Linked DNA regions of Homo sapiens. The protein of the gene in region 1 purifies or fractionates together with the protein of each later gene. This does not show direct contact. Each region holds a gene or a part of one and is shown in the gene's direction. Other genes may lie near its edges.

What was found.
Region 2: the proteins of NBAS (region 1) and SLC2A12 purify together in Homo sapiens (co-immunoprecipitation; one large-scale study listed by IntAct). This does not show direct contact.

The regions. Positions count from the first base shown.
Region 1 is NC_000002.12:15,554,635-15,558,460, reverse strand, and holds part of NBAS (NBAS subunit of NRZ tethering complex), read left to right. Parts: intron 1-1,641; coding exon 1,642-1,678; intron 1,679-3,826. UniProt on the Homo sapiens protein: Involved in Golgi-to-endoplasmic reticulum (ER) retrograde transport; the function is proposed to depend on its association in the NRZ complex which is believed to play a role in SNARE assembly at the ER. Required for normal embryonic development.
Region 2 is NC_000006.12:134,045,842-134,049,667, reverse strand, and holds part of SLC2A12 (solute carrier family 2, facilitated glucose transporter member 12), read left to right. Parts: intron 1-3,826. UniProt on the Homo sapiens protein: Insulin-independent facilitative glucose transporter.

The DNA.
Region 1 (3,826 bases):
TATTTATATATACACACATATGTATGTATATGTATACATTTGTATATTTACGCATGCACGTTTTTAGCTCTAATGCAGCTTAGAGCTAAAGTATATAGCTTTGGTTTAACCATTATGGATGTATTCTAGAACAGGTGTCCTCAATTCCTGGGCCATGGACTGGTACCAGTCTGTGGTCTGTTAGGAAACAGGCTGCATAGCAGGAGGTGAGCGATGGGTGAGTGAGCATTACCACCTGAGCTCCACTTCCTGTCAGATAAGCGGCAGCATTAGATTATCAGGGAAGTGCAAACCCTATTGTGAACTGCACGTGTGAGGGATCTAGGTTGCATGGAAAAATTGTCTTCCACAAAACCAGTCCCTGGTGCCAAAAAGGTTGGGGGACGCTGTTCTAGAAGGAATGAAGGTCAAAGCCAGTATGAGTCTCAGAAAGTCAGTGGATGTTGAAGGTGAAAATACACTGAGAGACTATTTTAAGAGGTCTATGTGGTGTTTCAGATAGATCTGGTCAGAGATACTCAAATTACAGATTTGATAAGCCAGGGTATTCATTTAACTCCTGACAAATTTTACGTATGAACTAACAAGAGTCTGAGAAAGGATTGAGCACTAGGTTTACTGAGCTGGTGCCATGACGGGTTTACCATATTCATTAATAGAGTCCTTTTATCAGACCAGAAAGGTGCCGTTACTCCTTTATGATTTTAGATAAGAAAACTTGCTCAAGGTCATTCATTTGGAATTTGACTGCATGTCTTTCTGGCTTCAAAGTCCATCCTTATACCAGTGAATTTAAGTTCCTTATAAAGAGAAAATTCATTTTCACAGAAGTTAAGTACTTGAAATTAACTGTAATCTTCTGATTATCCTTTTATCTTCTGATAAAATTACAGTTAATTATAGTTAATTTTATCTTCTGATACAAGAAGCACTAGCATATTCAGTTTTCATAATGACAAATGCTTTTAAATTTTGAGAATTTAGAAAATGTGTACAAATAATAAAAATTCATTGTAGAAAATACAGACACTATAGATAACTACAAATTAGAAAAAAATTTGTCCTCATACCACCTAGAGAGAATCTGTTATTCTTTAGATATTTTTCCATTGATATATACCTAACTGCATACACAGGTACACACATACATGTACATTTAGGATGATAGAAAGCATTGTTTTTTATAGCGTGTTAGAGGTTTTGTTTTCCGTGGGCTTTCCCATTTTAGGTATTACTGTTTTAAAAATCTTTGCTATAAAGTGTAAAATATATCTTGCTTTAATTTTTTATACAAATATTTTGGTTTCTAAGGGGTGATTATTATAACTTCTAGTCCATGGTTTCATGAAAGCTTCTTAGATTAAATTTAACATCTCAAACTGCTTTTATTTCTTGAACAGTTAGGAAATACTTGAAACTTTTGAATAACACACAAACATGGAATTTAATAAGTATATGACCCTGTAAATGTTACAGTGTATATTAGGTTATATTTAGTCTCTCATTTTAAGACTTGAGTTCTTTATTTTTTTTAATGACTCGCTCTGTAGTATATTTTAGATTTCTCATCTATAAATCTAATTTGAAAATGATTCTTAACAGCTGATTTATATTTGGCTTTGCCATTTCTTTTGATTACAGATCGTTTATTATTTTTACGCCAATACATCTGGTACAGGTGAGTCTTCGGTTCTTCAGAGAAACAGTATGAACATCAAATATAAACAATATTGTTCTATATATGATTTGTTTTCATAATTGAATTCTAGATCATGATAAAGTTGCTGACATTCAGGCAAACTCAGTATGAGACATTTCAAACATTTAGGTAGAATCTGACAAGATATCTCAGTAGACTTAGGGTAGTTTTTGTTCCCTTAGTTACTATTAAGAATGTCTCATGACAATTTCTGCTTCCTCTGATGACTATTCTCAGGCTTATCTTGAATGTCCATATGAAGCATCTGTAGCCTGCATATCTTTTAAAATACATTTTTGTTCTTGTCATGTCATCTCACTTGTGGTTAATATTCAACTGCTGTATATCAGAGAAGGTTCTTTAGGTTTCAGTTCTTGTATATTTTTTAATTCCTTGAGTGTTAAGTATATTTGCAGGGATGATGCTAATTTCCAGCTTTAGAAAGAACAAAGAAATTATTATTATGACAAAAAAGTTATAATTCTGCTTTTAGATACATGTGTAGGAATTGTTTTATAGAATTATTTACATAGATTGCTTCTTCGTTGAGGATATCTTGTCGTAAAGTTCCAGAGATAATATAGTTCCATAAAAGAGACCTTTGGCGTTCTCTAGGACTTGCTCCAACGTCTTTCTGCTTTTACTCTATGTATGTGTGTGTGTATGTGCATACATGTATATATGTATGCATATTTACAATTTCTATACTTAATTGTGTCACTTTTTTTGTGGGTGTGGGATATGATAGGATAGAGCAATGAGTAGGAAGAGAGAGTGGAAGGAGAGGATAGGAGTGTGGGAGGTGGGCTGTGTTTTCTGACTTCTCTAGGCGACAGCTTGTTAGTCCTGAACACCCTTGGATGAGGTGTCAAGCTTGTCTTGTTCAGGTTGCTGCTTGATAATTCTTTTTTTTATTTATTGAGAAGGAAGACTCAAAAAGTTAACTCTGCTACAAGCCCTGTCCTCTGTGTGAGAACCTTATGATCAGGCATCAGAAGTAGGTATCTTTTTGTCTCCCTTCCTCCTGAGAAGCCTTTTTCCTTGAATCATTGTACAGGTTGCAAATGCACCATTAAGTGATTCATCTGTCTCATGATATGCTGCTTTCAAAAAGATTATAGTTCAATTTGTGCTCTTGAGTTTATGGTAATTAAACCCAAAGGTTTTGGGGTCAGTATTTGTTTCAAGTGACTTTTTCTTCTTTTTTTAAAAAAGTTCTTTTAATTATGAAATATAAACATACTGAGAATTATTGACAATATAATAAACCTGTATCAGCTAGCTCTTTTTGTTTTTATGCAAAATGTTACATCTCAAGTCCTTTCCCTTTTTCTTTTCCCTTCCCTTCTAGAGGAAATTATCATCCTCATATAGGTAGTATTCACATACATGTTTTGTATCTTCATTATATTTTTGTAACTGTCTTTTGATATTATTTTGTGTTTTAAAAAATGAGCGTAAATGTACTACATGTATATTACTAATTTTTTTTTTTTTTTTAAGAGAGGGTCTTATTGTGTTGGTCAGGCTGGAGTATAGTGGCTATTCACAGGCAAGATCATGGTACACTGTAGCTTTAAACTCCTGTGCTCAAGCAATCCTCCTGCCTTAGCCTCCCGTGTAGCTGCGACTATAGGCACATACCATTGTGCCTGGCCACTAACATTTTGGAATCCTATTTTGTGTTTTCTGATTTCCATAATTTATTTTTTTTCTATTTCATGAAATTATGTTCTTTATTCTTCTTTTCCATCTGTTTTCTTGATTTCTTCGGGTATTAATCCTCTAATTTGCTGTGTCTGCTTACTCACTTATGATGAGTAGTTTCGTGTCTTTTGTGAATGGTTTTATTTTGAACTTATGCTTGCAGATTCTTGCATCACATGAGTAAAGTGAAATTGTAATCTGATCTTACATATAGTACAGACTTGGACTTTTACTTTTTCATAGGAGATTTTATTCTTATCCTCCACAGAACCATAGTTCCAGGGAGAGAAGAGAGTCTTTAGTCTCCCTGGGCCTATGGTGAGGTGTTTCTAGTTCTTTCAATGACCTGGTGCAGTCATTTGAGCATCCTGGCCTTTGCAGGAGTCTCACTTCCAACTCCTGTCCTCTCTTTGGTTCAGT
Region 2 (3,826 bases), on another chromosome or scaffold:
AGTAAATTTTTTCAGCTTTCATGGACATGTTCCAATCCATCTTAATATAGGACAGGATTAAGCTCAGTTTGAAATTCTGGTGCCTAGAGTTGACAACAGATATAAATGAAGTGAGATATTAGACGGATGGAGCAACTCACACAAGGGAAATCTGAGGTCAAAAGATGTGTGATCGGCCCACGGTCACACAGAGGATGGTGCAGAACTGACCCTGGTGGCCTCTGGCCCAGGAGATTCAATACTGACTTCTACTTCAGCTCCCAGGCTTCCTTTATTTCATGATCCAAACAATTGGCTGGGGACAGAGTCCTCTTAAGTTTCCCTTCACCCCCAACTGTCCAAAGGTTCAGAAAACAAGAACAATATTTACTGTATGAGTGCAGGTTGTCAGCACTGCAGAACTCTCTGGCACTGGGACCCAGAACATGAAGAACGGGACTCACGAACTCAGCTGAAAGGACTGTCCTTTATCCCCTCTGAAGATGCCACAGTCTGGAATTTAAGAAATACACGCTTCTGCTCAGCAGATGAACATTCTAAGGCAGTTGTTCTCAAAACGCTTTTAAAGCTGTGAACTCCTTTTTCCTAAATGGAAGCTGGGCAGGTGGTGAGTATGTAAGATGTAACTGTAACTAAGTTCCTACTGAGTGCTGTTCTCCCGGGTTTAGCTTAAAATGGGCCCCCTGGAATTTCGTCAGGCCTGGCTTTCTCAGGCTTCGTCAGTCAGCTCTAGGGGAAGTCAACTTGTAAAAGAGACGGAGACTTGGAAACAAACTCATCCTTAGGGAAGAGGGAGTCAGGCCAACCAGCTTGGGCAGATGTCAGAGCTTTGGTTGTGAGAAGACAGATTCTAGTAAGAGGCCAGTTACCTTGGGCAGACCCAGGCATCTCAGAGTTTTTGATGCTGGGCCATTCCCATTTTTCCACACTTTCTATATATTAAAAACAATTAAGCATCAAAACCCGTGACAAAAATTATAGTGCTTTAAAAACATATGTATTTAACAAGTCAACATCTGATAACAATGATTGTGTCTACTGTGATACGTATTTCCAAGGAAATAACAGGTTTTTTTGTTGTTGTTGTTTTGTTTTTTCTGAGATGAAGTCTCGCTCTGTCACCTAGGCTGGAGTAAGATGGCGCGATCTTGGCTCACTGCAACCTCTGCCTCCCAGTTTCAAGTGATTTTTGTGCCTCAGCATCCTGAGCAGCTGGCTAATTTTTGTATTTTTAGTAGAGATGGGGTTTTACCATGCTGGCCAGGCTGGTCTCCAACTCCTAACCTCAGGTGATCCGCCTACCTTGGCCTCCCAAACTGCTGGGATTACGGGTGTGATCCACAGTGCCTGGCTGGAAATGACAGGATTTTTAGACGTGTTCATTTATGGAGGACCACTTGCTCTTCTGTGTGGTCATGAGACCAGATTTAAACATAAATATCTCCCCTTTCAGTCCAGTCAGCGTATCTCTGTGACTGTACATTTAACCTCACTTGGAAATCACATCAAAAGTCTAGATTTGAGGCTTTTCACCACTGTGAGCACTGGGCAAATGGCTCCTCTGGGATCTCTTGGGAAGGGAAAAGGCTGCGAACATGGTGGGAGATGTTTCTCTGCAAACTCTGGGTGCTATGCATCGTACGCGGCAGTGGTCTTGCTCCTCTCTAAGGATGTGTCACCCAGAGAGAGCAGAGAGGTTGCCACAGACCCCCTCCCAGGCTCTGAAGCAGCAGCAGACACACGCTGCAGGAAGCCTGCCCTGCCAGGGCCTGGCAGAGCCAGACCAAGCCAGCCTGAGAGCAGCCGGCCAAGAGGTTGGGCCCATCTGAGCAGGCTGAGATTAGCTGGTGCACACCAGCATGCCTGAACCAGTTTTTACAGCCATTCTGATAGGTCGGTGCCTCTGTCCTAGTTGTTAAATATTCTCAACATCACCGTTCTCTCTGTCAGATTACCAACAGTTGCTGAAGCAGCTGAGAGCCCAGGAATAGGCCTGGTGGTAGCTGATAGGACCTGAATATGAGCCCACAGGGTATCTTTCCTGTGAATTCTCAAGAGGGTGGTCTTTAGTGGTCTAGAGCTTACACTAGTTGGTAGAGACAGAACTCAAAATACACTGAATCTACCTTGGAGCAGCCGAAGGAAGCTGAGATTTGCATGTGTAGATAAAAGATGAATCCACCAACTTGAAATTGCAATTTTTAATTGCTGTAGGTATGTAGGATTTTATTATTCATTCAAGAATAGTTCATTTTAGAATCACGGTTTCATAGGGAGCATTTTCTCGGTACTATCTAGCCTTTGGGTTAAAAAAGTTCTGAGAGCTCTAAAGGGCCCTCCATTACTATGCAACAGTTGAAACAGCTATTTACTCAGTGTATGAGCAAGAACGGGTTATATAAGATTTTAAAATTGAATAGAGTCAGAGCTCCTTCATTCAGTATTTTTTCTCATGAACAGTCTCCCCCAGAAGGATGAGTTATTGAAAAAATTAATGCAATGGAAGCCACTTAAAAGATACCAAGTTATGGTGATGAGAAAGGAAAAGTTGGAATTGGCTCCTTCCCAAGAGGCTATTTGACCAAATATCAAATGCGGATGATTTTTCATCCCTTCTTCCCTTCAAAAGTACTCAATATCAGTTAATGTCACTGAACGTGACATCCCCCAAAATACTTCCCAGCTGAAACTGAGTCAAATATATTACCTTTAGAGTAAATCATAAATTCAAATTTTTTTTCTGTATTATTTTGTTTTGCCTTTGCACACTGGTATCATTTTTCTTCCCATGTTGTAGCACACTTATTTTATGCATTTGCTAAATGACTATGCCCCAGTAATACTAATCATTCTTTTTAAAAATGTAAGACAGAGTTTTGCTCTGTCATCCAGGCTGGAGTATAGCCTCAGCTCACCGCAACCTCCACCTCCTGGGTTCAAGCAGTTTTCGTGCCTCAGCCACCCAAGAAGCTGGGATTACAGGCACTCACCACCACACCCGGCTAATTTTTGTATATATATATTTTTTTTTAGTAGAGACGGTTTCACCATGTTGCCCAGGCTGGTCTCGAACTCCTGGCCTCAAGCAATTCACCCGCCTCAGCCTCCCAAAGTGCTGGGATTATAGGCGTGAGGCACCGCTGCCCACCTAATTATTCTAAACAACTTAGTAGAAATAATAGTAAGACTAAAATAATTTATTACATCATTCTAGTTTTAGGAGATTTCATTATTTTTGAACAATGATTTATTTTATACTGTTTTGCCAAAATTCCACGGAGAAAAATGCAATTCTTGTTTGACTTTTAGGAATATATTTTTTAAGTAAAGCAAGTGTAATTTAATTTTAAACTGTTAAATTGTGATTGCCTTGGAAGTAGCTGCTTCTCAGACAACTCATGACTCAGGTCTGCCTGGCATCACTGGGCTCTGGAGCTGTTAGCAGTGCCCATTATTATTTTATACAAAATGTCTTGCTCCCACACACATTTCCACACTTTATGGAAGTTAGAGTTGGGAGTTATGAGTAATACTAATTAAAAAACCATGACAGCTCAGCTTCAGATGTGCAAAGTTTTTCAAGAACAGGGGAAATGGAAGTTGTAATTAGGGTCAATTTGTGTGGTGAGAGAGCATCCTCACACTAATGAAATGTTTTATTTATATTGGGAAACTAAGCTGCAGAAACCTTCAGACAAAATCACAGGAGGAATTTTTCATGCTGCAAGCCCAATTATGTAGGTACTGCCAATTTTGAAAGCAAAGGAATTCAAGAATTTATGAAAGACACAATTGTTATGCTGGAAATAAGGTATTATTTTATTTC